Linked DNA regions of Homo sapiens. The protein of the gene in region 1 purifies or fractionates together with the protein of each later gene. This does not show direct contact. Each region holds a gene or a part of one and is shown on either strand. Other genes may lie near its edges. The genes, in order: SUN3, GAS6, TBC1D9, LAPTM4A and PCYOX1L.

Region 1 (3,517 bases):
ACTAAAACGATCTTCTCTCAATTTAAAAAATAGTGGATTGGAAATTAAAGTAATTCATAGACTCAACCTAGATTAAGCAAGAATGAAAATAAGTAAGTTTGTTGACGTGAGTGTAGTGGCTAAAGTCCAAGTTAAATGCATGATGTTGTTAAATTCTTTTTCTAATCATTGTTTTTATTCTTTTAGGGTAACTCGATCATGGAAGATTATTCTAAGTACAATGCTTACACTGACTTTTCTTCTTGTAGGTAAGTCTTCCTAAGTAATGATCCTTAAAACCATTCCACAGGTTATGTCTGCCTGGTGAGAGAGATCTCAACGGAATGACTCATATTTGTAAATAAATGCCACGGAAAGTGCTGGAGGTGACCTGCACATTCTCAAAGCTTTTTCGTTTGTTTTTTATTTCTGATTGTAAGAGTAATACTGGCTTTTTAATAGAAAATTTAGAAAGGAGATTTTTCTTTTAGAATTGTGGTTTGCTTTTTGCAAATTTTTTAGTCATAGATGTTGCTTTAAAGTTAAGAATTTCTAATATATTTATTGCAAACATACATTTTACCTTTTCTAAATTTAGGTGACTCCACTTGGGAGGTTTTGACAACCAGAGACTCTTGCTCATCACACAGTTCCCAAATAAATTACTGCAGAATGTGCAGTTTGTAGTTTCGTATCGGGAAATATCACCATCCACCACCCCTAGCACACTGGAAAATTGTTCTTTAATATATTCACAACTTAAGGCATGTATCTCCCATTAAAATAAAAGTTTCAACCCAGTTATTGTTACAAAAAAGATCATATAGCATGTGATCTTTCTTATCTGCCTTCTTTCACTTAGCATAATGTTTTTAAGGTTCATCCATATCCTATCATGTGTCAGTTCCTCATTCCTTTTTGTAGCTAAATAATATTTCATTGTATGTATATACCTCATTTTGTTTATCCATTTATCTATTCATGGACATTTAGAGTGCTTTTATCTTTAGGCTATTGTGAATAGTGATGCTGTGCATAAGTGTGTATGTGTGCTTATTTGAACACCTGTTCTCAATTCTTTCAAGTATATACATAGGAATGAGATTTCTGGGGAGGAACCACCAGACTGTTTTCCTCAATGGCTGCACTATTTTACATTCCCACAAGCAGTGTAGGAGGACTGCTATAGTTTGGATATCTGTCCTCCCAAACCTCATGTTGAAATTTGAACCCCAGTGTTGCAGGTGGGGGCCTAATGGAAGGCATTTGGGTCATGAGGACAGATTCCTCATGAATCACTTGGTTCCATCCTTACAGTAATGAGTTGTCACTCTATTAGTTCCTGTGGGAGCTAATTGTTAAAAAGAACCTGACTTCTCCCAGCTCTCTCTTGCTCCCTCTCTCACCATGTGATCTCTGCACATGCTGGCTCCTCCTTTGCCTTCCACCATGAGCGGAAGCAGCTGGAGACCCTCACCAGTTGTAGATGCTGGTGCCATGCTTCTTGTACAGCCTATAGAACTGTGAGCCAAATAAACCTCTTTTCTTTATAAATTACCCAACCTCAGATATTCCTTTACAGCAACACAAATGGATTAAAACAAGAAGTCCAATTTCTCTACATTTCCACTATCATTTTTTTCCTTTTTTTTTAAATTACAGCCACCTGATGGATGAAAAGTCATGTTTCATCATGGTTTGATTTCTCTAATGACTAATGATGTCAAGCATCTTTTTATGTGCTTATTGACCGTTTGTATGTGTTCCTTGGAGACATGTCCATTAAAGTCTTTTGCTCATTTTTGATTAGGTTGTTTGTCCTTTTGTTGTTGAGTTGGAAGAGTTTTTTAATATATTCTAGATACCAAATCCTTCTCAGATATATCACTTGAAAACATTTCTTTCATTCTAGGTTGTCTTTCATTCTAGGTTGTCTTTGCACTTTCTTTGATACACGAAGGTTTGTAATTTTGAGGGTGTCATATTGAAGCATCCATTGCCAAACCTTTTTAAAAGAGTTTTCTGGTTTTAGCTCTTATAATATTTAGGTAATTGACCCATTTTGAGTTCATTTTTGTATATGATGCAAGGGATCCAACTTCATTTTTTGGCATGTGGAAAGCCAAAGTAATATTTGCTAAAAATATTACTCTTTCCCTATAGGAATCTTTGAATGTCTTGTCCTCTGTTCCAAAAACTGAATTGGCTATAGTTGAATGGGTTTATTTCTGGATATTCTAGCCCATTAGTCTATATGTCTATCATTATCCAGTATCATGCTGTTTGGATTTTGATAAAGATTACTTTGAATCTGTGGACAGCTTTAGGTAGTGTTGCCATCTTAGCAGTAGTAAATCTTCCAATTCATGAACACAAGTTGTCCTTCCATTTATTTAGGTCTTCTTTAATTTCTTTCAGCCATGTTTTATAAATTTCAGTTTTGATTCTAAAGTAAATCTCTTGTAAGCAGCATATAGTTGAATCATGTTTTTAAATTCATTCTGCCAGCCTCTGCCTTTTGATTGGAAAGTTTAATCCATTTTCATTTACATTAATTACTACTAAGGAATGACTTACTTCTGCCATTTTTCTATTTTTTAGAAAATCTATATCTTATACCTTTTTTGTTCTTCATTTCCTTCTTTACTGCCTTCTTTTGTGTTTAATTGCTTTGTTGTAGTGCACTCTTTTGATTCTGATCTGTTTCATTTTGTATACGTTTTTTAGATATTTTCTTAGTGGTTACCATGGGGATTTCAACTGAGACCCTACATTTATAACAATATAGTTTAAATTTATACCAAATTAACTTTAATAGAATGCAAATACTCTGCTCCTATTCAGCTCTGCTCCTCTTTTTTTTCCTCCTTATGATCTGTATTCACTGGGATTTACTCCTCTTTATGTTGTCAAAAATTACATCTTTACACATTGGGTACCCATAAACATAGATTTATAATTATGCTTTATAAATTTGTCTTTTAAATTATGAAAGAAATAAAAGAAGGAGTTACAAACCCAAAACAATAATACTGGTTTCATATTTACCTCTCTGTTACCTTTACTGGAGATTTTGATTGCTTCATGCGGCATTGAGTTACTCTCTAATGTCCTTTCACTGCAGCCTGAAGGAATCCCTTTAGCACTTCCTGAAGGGCTGGTCTAGTCATAGAGACACCATGAGCTTTTCTTTATCTTAGAATATGTTAATTTTTTCTGCAGTTGGGAGAATCGTTTTCTCATATATAGAATTTTTTTTCTTTCAACGCTTTAAATATGTCATCCCACTGTCTTCTGGCCTCTATAGTTTCTGAAGAAAAAAATCAGGTGATAATCCAACAAAGACTTTCTTCTATATAACAAGGCATTGCTCTCTTTCTGCTTTCAAGATTATCTCTGTGTTTTTGTCTTTCAACAGTTTGATTATAATAGGTTTCAGCATGAGTCTTTTTAAGTTTGTCTTACTTGAAGTTTGTTGAGTTTCTTGGATGTGTAGATTCATGGCTTTTTATCAACTTTGGAACTTTTTCAGCCATTA
Region 2 (3,517 bases), on another chromosome or scaffold:
CCTCTTGGCTCAGGTGTGGATCAGGTGGTCTCTCTGAAGTTGGGACCCTCTTGGCCCAGGTGAGGATCAGGTGGTCTCCCCGGGTCAGGTCCCTCTTGGCCCAGGTGAGGATCATGTGGTCTCCCTGAGATTGAGACCCTCTTGGCCCAGGTGAGGATCAGGTGGTGTCCCTGAGATTGGGACCTTCTTGGCTCAGGTGTGGATCAGGTGGTCTCCCTGAGGTCAGGTCCCTCTTGGCCAGGTGAGGATCAGGTGGTCTCCCTGAGATTGGGACCCTCTTCGCCCAGGTGAGGATCAGGTGGCCTCCCTGAGATTGGGACCCTCTTGGCCCAGGTGAGGATCATGTGGTCTGCCTGAGATTGAGACCCTCTTGGCCCAGGTGAGGATCAGGTGGTCTCCCTGAGATCGGGACCCTCTTGGCTCAGGGGAGGATCAGGTGGTCTCCCTGAGGTCGGGACCCTCTTGGCCCAGGTGAGGATCAGGTGGCCTCCCTGAGATCGGGACCCTCTTGGCCCAGGTGAGGATCATGTGGTCTGCCTGAGATTGAGACCCTCTTGGCCCAGGTGAGGATCAGGTGGTCTCCCTGAGATCGGGACCCTCTTGGCTCAGGGGAGGATCAGGTGGTCTCCCTGAGGTCGGGACCCTCTTGGCTCAGGGGAGGATCAGGTGGTCTCCCTGAGATCGGGACCCTCTTGGCTCAGGGGAGGATCAGGTGGTCTCCCTGAGGTTGGGACCCTCTTGGCCCAGGTGAGGATCAGGTGGCCTCCCCGAGGTCGGGACCCTCTTGGCTCAGGAGAGGATGAGTGTGGTTTTTCTCAGTTGGGAGCCCCTTCAGAACGTGCACTCCCATCTTTTCTCATGGCGCTGCCTCTCTTCAGATCTCTGTTGAGGAGCTGGCGCGGAATCTGGTCATCAAGGTCAACAGGGATGCTGTCATGAAAATCGCGGTGGCCGGGGACTTGTTCCAACCGGAGCGAGGACTGTATCATCTGAACCTGACCGTGGGAGGTATTCCCTTCCATGAGAAGGACCTCGTGCAGCCTGTGAGTACTGTACCTGTCCCTGTGTAGACGCGCCGTGTGCTGGGATCCCGGGAACGGTGTCAGGAAGCCTCAGTCACACCCTGCCCTGTGTTTACCATTAACCAGGTGTGAGGAGGACCTAGAGGAAGGAAAGGTTTCCTAGAGTTTGACAAAGTCGCCGTACAGCTATGTCATTAATTTTACCATCTCTTTTTATGAGACCTAAGTTTTCATCTGAATTGATAATAAAGTTGTCTATTTTTCAATGGAGATAAGACACAATTAAATTATTATTATTTTTTTTGAGACGGAGTCTTGCTCTGTTGCCCAGGCTGGAGTGCAGTGGCGCGATCTCGGCTCACTGCAAGCTCCGCCTCCCGGGTTCACGCCATTCTCCTGCCTCAGCCTCCCAGGCAGCTGGGACTACAGGCGCCCGCCACCACGTCCGGCTAATTTTTTTGTATTTTTAGTAGAGACGGGGTTTCGCCGTGGTCTCGATCTTCTGACCTCGTGAACTGCCCACCTCGGCCTCCCAAAGTGCTGGGATTACAGGCGTGAGCCACCGCGCCCGGCCGAAATTATTCTTTAACAGAACAGTAAACTTTTTTGGACAATTTCCAAGAACATTTTGGGTTTTGTAACTCTGCCGTGAGTCTCATAAGGGGAAAACAGCCATGATGGGCGGTCAGTGTGGGCCATTGCTCCAGGTCCCGCCTTCTCTCCCCTTCAGCACAGCACACGCCCGTGCCCCCGACCTGTGTCTCCAGCCCCCACGTGCTGACGTCTAAGCCGTCATCCTGGGTATTTTCACTTCCACACCAGGCAGGAGAAAGGCACGCATGTCTTCGCGTCTTTGGGTGCTGAGTGTCGGCAGTGCCTGTGCTGAAGCCACCCCTTCAGTGTTGTGAGGGGCACCTGCTCCCCAGGCCCACAGACTGCCTGGTGCCGGGACCTTCGGTGTTGTGAGGGGCACCTGCTTCCCAGGCCCACAGACAGCCTGGTGCCGGGACTTTGCCTGGCTGGACCCTCCTCGTTTCACAGATAAGGGGGTTGCCCTGATTTGCCCACAGCCATATTGAATATTGAATAATTCACATGAGTGTTGGATGGTTGAACAATCCATACTCTTTGACCTTAGACCCACATGGCCTTTTCAGTCCTTTCCTAGCTTTAAAATGAACCTTTAGTTCTTGAGCATACACCAGTGGAAATAGGTATTCTGCAGTGAGGCGTTGTGTAAAGTGAAGAAACCTTCTGTGAAATGGCCACCACCGATGGGACTGGCCCGTTTCTGCCGTAGAGCTGCACATACCAGGGCCGCGAAGGCGCCACCCACCGACTGGGGCATCCGGCATGGGGCTTCTCGCTCCCAGGAAGCCACGGAGATTTCTCTGCCTTTCCAGATAAACCCTCGTCTGGATGGCTGCATGAGGAGCTGGAACTGGCTGAACGGAGAAGACACCACCATCCAGGAAACGGTGAAAGTGAACACGAGGATGCAGTGCTTCTCGGTGACGGAGAGAGGCTCTTTCTACCCCGGGAGCGGCTTCGCCTTCTACAGCCTGGACTACAGTAAGTCTTGGCTCTTACCGTTGGGGTGGCTGTGGCTGCACCTTCAGACAGGCATACGCTGAAAGCAAGCAGACGGCCTCAGATGGCAGCGTCAGGACAAGCTGAGGCTCCTCCGGTTCCGGGGCAGGGATGGGTGGGCGGGGTGGGCGGAGGTGCGGGCAGAGGCCCACCTCTCAGGATGGCCATGCAGGTCACTCAGTTCAGAGTCAGCCAGTGAAGAAGAAATGAGAGAGATGTGCCGAGAAGGTGCCTGCGAAGCCAGTGCCAGGAGGCCGGGGAGAGAAGGTGCCTGCGAGGCCGGCGCCAGGAGGCGGGGGAGAGAAGGTGCCTGCGAGGCCGGCGCCAGGAGGCCGGGGAGAGAAGGTGCCTGCGAGGCCGGCGCCGGGAGGCCGGGGAGAGAAGGTGCCTGCGAGGCCAGCGCCGGGAGGCCGGGGAGAGAAGGTGCCTGCGAGGCCGGCGCCGGGAGGCCGGGGAGAGAAGGTGCCTGCGAGGCCGGCGCCGGGAGGCCGGGGAGAGAAGGTGCCTGCGAGGCCGGCGCCGGGAGGCTGGGGAGAGAAGGTGCCTGCGAGGCCAGCGCCGGGAGGCCGGGGAGAGAAGGTGCCTGCGAGGCCGGGGAGGCTGGGAGCCTTACAGGGTCCTTTGCAGAAAGTCCGGAGACAGCACAGCCTTAGGACTCGTCCAGGGGCACAGAGAAGCTCTCGGTAACATGGTGGACACCGTGGTCACCGATGACCCGGTGAGACAGCTACAATGGGAGGTGTGTAAAAACAGCCGTGAAGCTGCCTGGGGGACAGTGAACCTAGGCCTGAAAAAGGGAGGACAGGGTGGATGTGAGCTGCTGGCCCAGTCCTGTGACGCCACGCTGCCGCCCTCCCCAGTGCAGGCTCCGGGGGTGCTGCTGTGAGGATAGTGTTACTGCTCGG
Region 3 (3,517 bases), on another chromosome or scaffold:
CTAGTCATATTAATACCAGTTGTGTGCTTTGTGTTTTATTCCTTATTAGGGCATCATTGCAGAATACAACAAAATCAATGATGTAAAGGAAGATGATGACACGGAGAAGTTTAAAGAAGCCATTGTGAAATTTCATAGGCTGTTTGGGATGCCAGAGGAAGAGAAACTCGTCAACTATTACTCTTGCAGCTATTGGAAGGGGAAGGTCCCCCGTCAGGGTTGGATGTACCTCAGCATTAACCACCTTTGCTTTTATTCTTTTCTTATGGGAAGGGAAGGTAAGTCATCTAAAATTTCAGCAGGAAACTTTGGAAAGTCTACTGAGGTTTGCCCTGAACTCATAAACCACATCAAAATATCAGAAATAAATCTATAGTTATAACTAAGTCAATACTAATTTTTTTTTACTACTGAAGTGAATTTAATTATTTTTCAGTTCAAAATGGTCACTAAGTAATAAAGATTCACTAAAGGTGTAATTAATTCAGTAGACATGGATTAAATCTATAATTCTGACCTCAGAATTCACATGGCCCAGATTTACCTCTTAAAATGAACAAGCAAAACAAATATGGTATTATAAACTCAAAGGAGTTCAGTGGGATGGGGGAGTGGGGTTGTGAGACTGCAATATCTTGAAAGCGTTTTCAGGAATCAGATGTTGACCCAGGCTTGTTCCTTGTGCTCAGCGAAACTGGTCATCCGGTGGGTAGACATCACTCAGCTTGAGAAGAATGCCACCCTGCTTCTGCCTGATGTGATCAAAGTGAGCACACGGTCCAGTGAGCATTTCTTCTCTGTATTCCTCAACATCAACGAGACCTTCAAGTTAATGGAGCAGCTTGCCAACATAGCCATGAGGCAACTCTTAGACAATGAGGGATTTGAACAAGATCGATCCCTGCCCAAACTCAAAAGGAAATCTCCTAAAAAAGTGTCTGCTCTAAAACGGTGGGTGATAGAGACCTTGTATCTTCCAGACTTTAGAAATGAGAAACTCACTCATTCATTTATTCAGTGTAACCTTCTCTGACGATCTTCAAGGGTTCTGAACACTCTTCTGTGTATAGATACAAAACTAAAAAAGACTAGCTGAGGTGCTACCAGTTCAGAAAGTGAGACAGACATGACCTGCTCCAACACAAGGCAGCAGGCACTCTTCTGGTCCTGTGAACACAGTGCTGTGGGTGCACACATGGGGAGTGATAGCCTCAGCCCAGATGGGGAAGAGTGGGTAAGAAAGGCCTCTCAGTGGAGGCTGCTTTGAGCTGGGCTCTGAAGAGGTGATAGAAGTTACCTGTGCAGGTACATATCCATGCCTGGATATTTCAAGCAGAGGGAAGATGACGATGGGGGAAACACAAGGGAAAACACAGAGAGAAGTAACTTTGTCACATGGCTAGTAGGTGGCAGGGCATGGGATGAGGAGAGGCTGCAGAGAAGCCTCAAAGTCTGAATGTGAGAGCAGAGCTAGAGAGAGGGTGATGGAAAGTTGATGCCCCATGTGCCTGGAATTACCCTTCATCAACACAGGGAATGAGAGAAGGAAGAGCATGTCCAAGGGATACGATAGCTCAGCTTTGATTATGTTGAATTGAGGTGCCTGTAGCTCATCTAAGTAGAGATCAGTCCAGTAAGATATACAAAATTGGAAATCATTGATGTGCATTTGGTAGTTGAAATCTAACCAGAGGTCTTTGTAATTAAGATGTCCTTGGTGATTTGAGACATGTTCAAAAGAGCAGTGTAAGATAGATGCTGCTACTGCAGCGGATCAAATAAAAAATAAAAGACAAGGAAAGGGAACTAGGCAAATACAGACTTCATTTTCAAGAAATTCAGTGGTAAAGGAGGGGAGGATTGCTTTTTTTTTTAGAATGAAAAAGATTTGAACATAGTATCAAATGAAGGAGGCAGATGGGAAGAGCATTTTGGTGAGGGTAGGTGTGGAGACAGGAAGGGACATAGAGATAGTTATAAGAAAGTTGATCATTTAAGAAGTGATATTTTGTAGAGAAAGCATGGAAAGGATGCTTGTGTGTCCTGATATACCTTTTCCTTTGGAATGGAGAGGAAGTAAGAGTAGGTGAGGATGGAGGTGACTTTGGAGACAGAAGGGAAGGAATTGGAGGGGGCTTCTGCATCATGGACCTTTGCTCTATGAAGTCAGAGACTAGACCATCACGAGGCTGATGTCAGGTAGAAGCTTGAGGGGAGAGGTTTAAACAACTGACATGATGAGCAAGAACAAAGAACTCATTAGAGAAAAGATAGTAGTTAACAGAAGACCCAGCTAAGGTCAGAAGCCATAGTTGCCCAAGGTGAGTTGTTCCTGTGTCTTTTCCTGCAGCTTTGTTGTCGATTTGGGGTGGACACTGAGGCCCAGTGGATTTATATGGCTGGTTTGCATTCTCATTAGGTCTTAAAAGATAAGGCCCCCCCTAAAGTGGCTTGGATAAGAGTAAATGCAGTGACCTCTTTAGAGTGTATTGCATTTCTTTAGAAAGAGGAAGAGTTTCCTGTTCAGGCTTATTTTTGCTATGATTCTTTAACATTTACAGACATGGATTATAAGTGACTATGCAAGGGACTGAAATATAATAAGATAATTTTATTACGCTTTTGGGTCATTAGGTTGGGGTTAACTTCAATATAAAGAAAGCTGAGAAGCGGGGGATGAGTCTAGCAAGATTGAGGAGGTGGAAAATGGGCTGGGGGAACTTCCGCTGCTGCATAATTTAGAAGGTATGGAAACATTTTTCTTATGTGAATTGTAATTATTGCTTTCCAGTGATCTTGATGCCAGGGCAAAGAGTGAGAGATACCGTGCACTTTTCCGGCTGCCCAAAGATGAAAAATTAGATGGCCACACAGACTGCACTCTCTGGACTCCATTTAACAAAATGCACATTTTGGGGCAGATGTTTGTGTCCACAAATTACATCTGTTTTACCAGCAAGGAGGAGAACTTATGTAGCCTCATTATCCCGCTCCGTGAGGTAAGTATCTGATAAAAATTGATATTTTAAGTTTCATTTGTAATACTTTTCTGGGTGAACCAGGAATAATTTTTTTACCAACAATTGGCTTTTGAACACAGGTGAATGTTCATGCGTCTTTGGTGGCACCTGCATTCTTTCATTTGTTGTCACTGCTGTGACTCTGGGACCTGTGAGATCTCTTCTTCCAGAAGCTGCATGGGGGTTTTTTAATGTAGGTTTTGTTTTTATTTTATTTTATTAGAGACAGTCTCGCTCTGTCACCCACGCTGGAGTGCAGTGGCATGATCTCAGCTTACTGCAACCTCCACCCTCCAGGTTCAAGCGATTCTCCTGCCTCAGCCTCCTGAGTAGCTGGAATTACAGGCGCCTGCCACCATGCCCAGCTAATTTTTGTATTTTTAGTAGAGATGGAGTTTCACCATGTTGGGCAGACTGGTCTCGAACTCCTGGCCTCAGGTGATCCACCCACCTTGGCCTCCCAAAGTGCTGGGATTACAGACATGAGCCACTGTGCC
Region 4 (4,100 bases), on another chromosome or scaffold:
GAATAAAATGCACTACTTGGACAAGCCTTCTTTGCTTCGAAGTATTATACTACAGTTTGGCTTAGGTGGTCTTGCATCATAAGTGTTACATGTCTCCCCAAGTTGGTAGAGACTGTCTTTACACTGCTATGGTATTCAAGCTACTCTTTTGAAAGTCATCAACAAAACTATAATAAACAAAACCAATGGCCTTTTTCCAGTACTTATTCTGATTAGAATCTGATATTACTGATCACCTTCTCCTCCTCCTCATCACTGTACCATATGTTTTTCATATCTGTGCTCCAAGTTTGTGATACCATAAATATCTTAAGGGCAGATGCTGTGTTAGACAAGAAACATTTGAGAGTCTAGCACTTAGCAGGTAATAGGAAAACAAGGCAAATGACACATGGCCCCTGTGATTTATTCCTTTTGTTTGTCCACCAAAGCCTTTTACACTGCAGGTGGTCAGTAAATCTCTTAATCAATTTAAGACAGGTCAAACGATTTAAGAAGTTTACAATAAAATGTTTTACACTAATCTGAGAAGTCTATGCAAAGTAAGAACAGCTATGGCATCTTTTTAAAATTGTGAAACTAAAGCATGGTCTTCAGAGGTATGTGAACCCTTCTCACAACAAGGGCTTAAAGTAGGGAACAGATGTAAACTCCTCACTCCCTATTTTGTAAGAATAAGCGCCCGTAATGAAGTTTTTCTCTCTGCATTTTGAGTTTCCTGTTTGTAGTTCCCACTTTATCCTGCTATTCTATTCATTTTCTAGCTGAGCCCACAGCATCAAAAAATCTGCCTGAGAAAAACTGAAAAGAAATACAGCCAATTACATTCGGATGGTTGAAATAGAAATGGTGGTATTCTCTTCTTGAGGAGTTAGGAATCCTTTGTTCTGTGAGTGGAGGGAAGGATCTGAGAAGAAACAGGAAGACTAAGACTGCAGGAGAGAGCCAGGTCGATGGATTCTCTTAGTTAAATAGGAAAGAAAGTCATCTTCTGGGGGTGAGGAAGACGGAATTGAGTAATAGCCTTGAGGATCCTCAAGGTTTGAATTATTCATTTAGGGAAATAGAAGACAGAGCTAAGGACAAACAAAAGAAATGAGACCCAGCCCCTCAGCAAAATGGAGAAGCTATAAAAGGAAGTTAGAAACATAATGCAGCTGATGGTCATTAACTCTATGTTTAGTATTCCAAATCAGTTAAAATACAGAACGAAAGAGTCTCTGAGGGAAAATGTGATATAGTTCTGTCAATAAGGCGGTATTTCCGAATATAAAAGTACAGGAAACATGAAAATAAACTCAGCACAAGCAAACCTACACATTCGTGTTGTTTTTTAAATGTACATCAGAAACAAGACGGTAAAAAACAACAGGGCAGGTAGCAGTCATGTGGAGTCAGGTAGTCCCCCGGGGGTGGGCCATGAAACAGTATCTGCCTCATTTAAGATGATTCTCATCTGGCGTTTGTCCAAATGCTTACTAATGATTTCAAGTCAATGAGTGGGGAGAAGCAGCAAGTACAGAGAAAACAGATTGTGTCTGGGATAACTCTCTTCCTCTTTTGCAGTTAAGTATCAAAAACTGCACAGTATCACCAACGTCACCCACACAACCACATTCGCGAAGTCATTAAAGTGGCCAAGTCGACCATGTAGGAAGTTTGTCACGGCTTCGGCAAAATCATAATAACCTAAAACTACCTAAACTGAATCCCATATTTGGAAGTCATAGACAAGTTAGGTTTAATGTGCATGGATACTATAAATGGTGAATTACAAAAGAAAAAATCACAAACTTATTACTAGTGAATCACCAGGCAACAACAGTGTCAACTTGGTTAGGACAGAATCACACAGATCTTGGAACCCAGGAGATACCGGGGTAGGTGGCCAGGATGGAGAGGGCTCTCAATAAAGGTCTCTGTAAAAACAGCCGGTCGGCTACGAAAAGCACCTACTGCGCAGGGAGGAGGCTGCACCAGGACAAAAGCTGGTCAGGCGTCAACTCAGGCAAAAGCTATCGCCCCCAAGCGATTCTGGAGATGCAAGAGAGGCATGAAACAAAACAAAGTCCAAGAAACGCGGACAACCGGGTTACCGCTGGATCTTTCGCTTTCCCAACGGGAAGACCAATGTCGAAACTAGACTGCGTTTACCAAGGTCCGCTCCTAATTATTTCATTAGAGGAAAAAATTCCAGGGAGCACTGGATAGGAGGAAGGGAGATGCTGCCTTTCAGATCGTAGAAATACAACAAGAACCAAAACAGAGGAATTCCCACCAAATCCTACCACCCTCGTCCCTTCGCCTGCAAAGCCTCTGCTCTCCCAAGCCCGCTTCTCTCCTCAAATTCTTGCCAAAGAACAATCTCCCCATGCTTACCACCGCCCCCCGCTCCCCCGACTCCGATTCCTGAACAAGGTTACTTTCCCAAAGTCCTTGGACTTCATCCAGAGTTGGCGCGCCTTAAAAAGCAGCGCCCCTCCAAGTCCCCGCCCCACCCAACACCCCGTTTCCAGTCTCACCCCCTCCGCACCAGGCCCCGCTCCCCAGGCCCCCCGGACATACGCGCCACGCCTGCCCGCCTTACCATGTACCAGGTCCCCAGGATGATCGTCCCGGTGCGGACATGGCAACAGCCGCAGCACCGGGTGCTGTAGAACCGGTCACTGCGGTTCCGCTTGAAACTCATGGACACCATCGTAACAGGCGGGCCTCCTTCTTGGCCGGGCCCCTGACAAACGTTCTCCACCCGCAGCCAAACTCAAACGGCTGTTTCACGGCCTCCAAAACCCAACGACGCGTCTTCAAACCCGCCCCCGGCTCGTGCCCCTGCCAGCTTCTTCGCGCCTGCGCACTGAGCGCAGCGACTTCGGCTTACCCACCCCTCTTCCTCCACACAGGCCAATGGGGAGCGGAAGGCTGGATGGACCGGACTTCTGATTGGAAGAACTTGGGGATTGACAAGACCTCACGCCCAATTAGAAGTGCAACTCGCCTCAGCGAGTCTCCGCCTGTTACGCGAAGGCAAGGGCTGGTTCTCGGGCCTAGGATAGTTGGGGATAGGTATGTCCCCGTAGTGCACTATTCCCGAGATGAGACCCGCAAGAAAAGAGGCATTTAATGGAAAAAGGGAGACACGAGACAGCGCGGATGGCAGAAAGCGGGCACAAGGGGCTTTTCTGAGCAATGTGTGCCACGTACTGGATGGGAAGCGTCACAGGCTGATAACGTGACCTTTGCGCGCAGCTCAATTATTGCGCGGGCTGGGGGCGGGGCCTGCGGGGAAGGGACAGAGCCAAGCCCAGCCTTGAGCCATCCTCGCCCCTGTGGCGGAAATGGGAGGGTGCCTGGAGGAGTGGAGGGATTGGATTTACACCCTCTTTTCCCTCCGAAGCCTCCTTGGTGGGGGCGAAGAAAGACCATCCAACCCTGCCAAAGGCAAAAGGATTAAGGATAAATGAAAGCAAGATAATGTAGAAGAACTACTTAGCTGCTGGGTTTTTGGAGATGAGTGATTTTTTTTTGTAGGGAGAAATTATGAAACACATTGAAATGGACAAAAAATTACTGAATGTCTTCAATGAAAAAACAGCCATAGTTTGGCACACCGTCCCGGGCATTCTGTTGCTAGAGGGGCTGTCCGCTTTTCTTTGTGGTGCTCTGCACAACTCGGTAAGACCCCTCGTATTGTTATCTTACCCTTCCTTGGGAAAAGCCATTTTGCATCGATTTGTAAATTCATTCCCCAGTCCTGATTCAACAATATAGATGGGTGCTTTAAATTCTGCTTAGAGCTGGTTCTAACAGCTTACTGGTCCCCGGGTTAATGAGTAAATAAATTTTTTACACGTGTTCATTTTGTATTTCTGTGAGACCTGTGACTTCACCGTTAAAAAATGTATTTATCATTTAATGCTTTGGTAAACACACTTCTTTTCAGAGAATAGAAAGGGCTTCCCTTCTGCCAGGGCATATTCTTAGCCAGAGACCACACTGAATTCAGAGTAAAGGTTATTTCTTTGGCATGGCTTCTTTGAACACTGCCTGAAATTATGTATGTATTTGTTGATTATCTCCCCAATAAAATACAAATTTTAGGA
Region 5 (3,517 bases), on another chromosome or scaffold:
TATAGGTAGGGTGGTAGTCCAGTTCAGTAGCTTCATAGCTGGTTTATAGTTCTCTCACAGGACTGTTTAATGATTAGTGTCAGGTGAGGCACAGTGGCTAATGCCTGTAATTCCAGCACTTGGGGAGGCCAAGGCAGGAGGATCACTTGAGCTCAGGAGTTCAAGACCAGCCTGGGCAACATGGTGAAACCTCATCTCTACGAAAAATATGTCGGGCATGGTGGCATGTGCCTGTAGTCTCAGCTACTTGGGAGCCTGGGAGGTTTGCAGTGAGCCAATATCATGCCACTGCACTCCAGCCTGGGCAACAGAGCCAGATCCTGTTTGAAAAAAAACTGATTGATGTCTGTCCAGGCAGTGGTTTCCTAGCAGCACCTCCAAGCCCTGTCCCAGGAAACATTCTTATCAGTGACTTCGATGAGAATAGTGATGGCATGTAAACCAAGTTTACAAATAACAGGAAGGCAGGAGGTACAGTAAAGACAGTGTATGATAAGACCCAAAAAAGCTGAAACTTTGTAACAAGATTTCAAACTGGAATATAGTGTCCTGTAGGGTAATGAACAATCCATCATAGAGTACATTCCAGTCTCTTTTTTTTGAGATGGAGTTTTGCTCTTGTTTCCCAGGCTGGAGTGCAATGGCACGATCTCAGCTCACCACAACCTCCGCCTCCCAGGTTCAAGCGATTCTCCTGCCTCAGCCTCCTGAGTAGCTGGGATTGCAGGCATGCGCCACCACACCCAGCTAATTTTGTATTTTTAGTAGAGACAGGGTTTCACCATGTTTGTCAGGCTGGTCTCGAACTCCTGACTTCAGGTGATCTGCCCCCGCTAGGCCTCCCAAAGTGTTGTGATTACAGGCGTGAGCCACCGCGCCTGGCAGATACATTCCAGTCTTGACAAACACAGACATAAGGATGATTTAGGTGTCCGATAGTAGGTTGGACTAGACCAGGAGTTGGCATACTTTTTTCTGTAAATGGCCAGAGAGTAAATATTTTAGGCTTTTCAGGCCATGCAGTCTCTGTTGCAGCTACTCAACTCTGCCTAAAATGAAAACAGTCATAGACAATAATTGAAAGAAAGAGCATCATGGCTGTGTTTCAATAAAACTCTAGTTTGCAAAAACAGGCATCTTTCTGGATTTGGCCTGCAGGCTGTAGTTTGCCAATCCCTGGATTAAGGCCTGGTTTCCAAACACTGATCACTGAACAGAACTGGTCAGTAACTTTTAACAATTCATAGGGAAATAAGAAAGTTAGAAGCAAGGTAGTGAGTTTTATATAAAACTAAATTTATTCTCTTTAATTGGTCATCCTGACTTTCAGTATTCTTTGCTGGTCTTTTGCTGCAAAATACCTTTTTCTTTATGAAACGAAAGTATAGTAGGCAGCAGTTTTCAGGTTTGCCTTTGCTTATTAATAGCTCTACTGACAACTCAGTCCGCAGATTTCCTTTTGGAAATGTTATAAGCCTAGGAAATTTAAGCACCTGGGAACCACCAGCGCAGGAGGATACAAAGTGTGAACTACAGCCTCTCACTCTCATGTTCTGTCTCTCTTCTTCCCTACCTCCCGGGCCTGCTGACAGCGGTGGTTGGGGCTGGGATTGGGGGCTCTGCTGTGGCCCATTTTCTCCAGCAGCACTTTGGACCTCGGGTGCAGATCGACGTGTACGAGAAGGGAACCGTGGGTGGCCGCTTGGCCACCATCTCAGTCAACAAGCAGCACTATGAGAGCGGGGCTGCCTCCTTCCACTCCCTGAGCCTGCACATGCAGGACTTCGTCAAGCTGCTGGGTGAGTGGTCAGTCCTGGGGCTCCAGTGCCCAGCGCCCTGGGGCTGGTGACAGCACTGGGCCCTTCTCAGACTTCCCAGACCATCAAGGCCAGAAGGTCATGTGGCCCAATCTCATTTTACAGATGGAGCAACAGAAACAAGAGAGGGGAAGGAACTTGCCTGAGGTTACACAGTGAGTTAGTTGCAGAGCCGGGATTAGAACTCAGGTTTGACTCCTAGGCCAGTTTCTTTCCCTTTCAATTTGCTGCCTCTAAATAATCGTGATTATATCACCTTCCACATGCTAGTGCTTGCCAGGCACCTTCTGGGTGGTATGTAGGCATTACCTCAGCTCCCCTCTACCAACCTGCAAGATGAGTGTTATATCTCCTCTTAAGGCAACTGAGGCTCAGAAAATGTATAGATTTAAGCTAAAGCCATTACAGCGAGAGGTGGGATTCAAACCCAGCAGCATCTGTCCAATACACGTTCTGTTTGATGCAGAAACTCTGCTTCTCAGAAGTGATGCTACAGGTGGTCTTACAGATGTGCAAAGTAGCATAGATACCAAGTTATTCACTACAGCATTGTTTGTAATAGCAAAAGGCTGAAAGTATCCTAGCTGCCTATCCACTAGGACCTGGGGTTAAACAAATTATTGTATAACTACACAATAGGCTGTTCAGCAGTCAGAATGGGGAAGTCTTTATGCCCAGATACAGGGCAATCTCCAAGATACAGTGTATTGTTAAAGTGGAGAGCAGTGTGTGTAGTATGTGGGGGTGGGGAAGGAACAAGTCATAGCAGCTCTGTCTGTGTTTAGGAGTCCACTGCTCTGTCAAGTTGCAGAGTGCAGGATGGCTGTAAGGAGCTAGGATAACTTCCAAGTGATCTCAGTGCCCAAGGCCACCATCTCCAAACAAGCCCAGTGGCTGTCACCCCCTGGACATTCTGGGATAAAATCTGAATTTCCCTCACTTGTGGATCCTCCTGGGGAAAAAAAATGTAAAATGTTACATTATTTTCATTTTCATTTTTTTATTGACTTGGTAGTCCAAACATTTTCCCAGTGCATCTGTTTACTGTTTATTAACAAGCAGCACAAATGAACAAACCATAGCATTTGTGTTTCCTTTAATGGACCAGTCCATTTGCATCAAGAGGGCCCCAAGTCTTGGAGGGGACCTGAGGGGCTCCTCTTTGTCTCTGCAGGGCTGAGGCACCGGCGCGAGGTGGTGGGCAGGAGCGCCATCTTCGGCGGGGAGCACTTCATGCTGGAGGAGACTGACTGGTACCTGCTGAACCTCTTCCGCCTCTGGTGGCACTATGGCATCAGCTTCCTGAGGCTGCAGATGTGGGTGGAGGAGGTCATGGAGAAGTTCATGAGGTAGGGCTGGCAGAGCTGTGGGGATGGCGTTCCAGGGGAACCGAGAAGAGGTGGGGGAGGAACCAGCTTGCCTGTACTTTGTGAAAAAGGAAAAGGTCCTTGCTGAATTGAGCCAGCACAATTCAGTGCAGGCTCAGAGCAAGCCCCTGGCATGAGGAATGGCCGTATTTGGTCCAGTAATGGTCTCCCTAGTATTGTCACATTGACTCTCATTTTCTTACCCTCTACTACACTGATACTAATAAAAGCATGGGTTGCAAACTCAGTCGCTTAACAAGGGCTGAACTGGGATGCGAGTCAGTGAATCAGCAGGTGGAAGAGAGCAGAACAAGGCCCCCTCTGAAGGAGGCA

Evidence for each region.
Region 2: the proteins of SUN3 (region 1) and GAS6 purify together in Homo sapiens (affinity purification with mass spectrometry; one large-scale study listed by BioGRID and IntAct). This does not show direct contact.
Region 3: the proteins of SUN3 (region 1) and TBC1D9 purify together in Homo sapiens (affinity purification with mass spectrometry; one large-scale study listed by BioGRID and IntAct). This does not show direct contact.
Region 4: the proteins of SUN3 (region 1) and LAPTM4A purify together in Homo sapiens (affinity purification with mass spectrometry; one large-scale study listed by BioGRID and IntAct). This does not show direct contact.
Region 5: the proteins of SUN3 (region 1) and PCYOX1L purify together in Homo sapiens (affinity purification with mass spectrometry; one large-scale study listed by BioGRID and IntAct). This does not show direct contact.

The regions. Positions count from the first base shown.
Region 1 is NC_000007.14:48,022,608-48,026,124, reverse strand, and holds part of SUN3 (SUN domain-containing protein 3), read left to right. Parts: intron 1-186; coding exon 187-248; intron 249-3,517. UniProt on the Homo sapiens protein: As a probable component of the LINC (LInker of Nucleoskeleton and Cytoskeleton) complex, involved in the connection between the nuclear lamina and the cytoskeleton.
Region 2 is NC_000013.11:113,826,073-113,829,589, reverse strand, and holds part of GAS6 (growth arrest-specific protein 6 precursor), read left to right. Parts: intron 1-878; coding exon 879-1,043; intron 1,044-2,425; coding exon 2,426-2,594; intron 2,595-3,517. UniProt on the Homo sapiens protein: Ligand for tyrosine-protein kinase receptors AXL, TYRO3 and MER whose signaling is implicated in cell growth and survival, cell adhesion and cell migration.
Region 3 is NC_000004.12:140,676,376-140,679,892, reverse strand, and holds part of TBC1D9 (TBC1 domain family member 9), read left to right. Parts: intron 1-49; coding exon 50-278; intron 279-689; coding exon 690-951; intron 952-2,791; coding exon 2,792-2,999; intron 3,000-3,517. UniProt on the Homo sapiens protein: May act as a GTPase-activating protein for Rab family protein(s).
Region 4 is NC_000002.12:20,048,823-20,052,922, forward strand, and holds the start of LAPTM4A (lysosomal-associated transmembrane protein 4A), read right to left. Parts: upstream 2,807-4,100; 5' UTR 2,699-2,806; coding exon 2,588-2,698; intron 1-2,587. UniProt on the Homo sapiens protein: May function in the transport of nucleosides and/or nucleoside derivatives between the cytosol and the lumen of an intracellular membrane-bound compartment.
Region 5 is NC_000005.10:149,361,045-149,364,561, forward strand, and holds part of PCYOX1L (prenylcysteine oxidase 1-like isoform 1 precursor), read left to right. Parts: intron 1-1,592; coding exon 1,593-1,799; intron 1,800-2,991; coding exon 2,992-3,166; intron 3,167-3,517. UniProt on the Homo sapiens protein: Likely to have oxidoreductase activity. Required in the mevalonate pathway to regulate prenylation and enhances the bactericidal activity of neutrophils.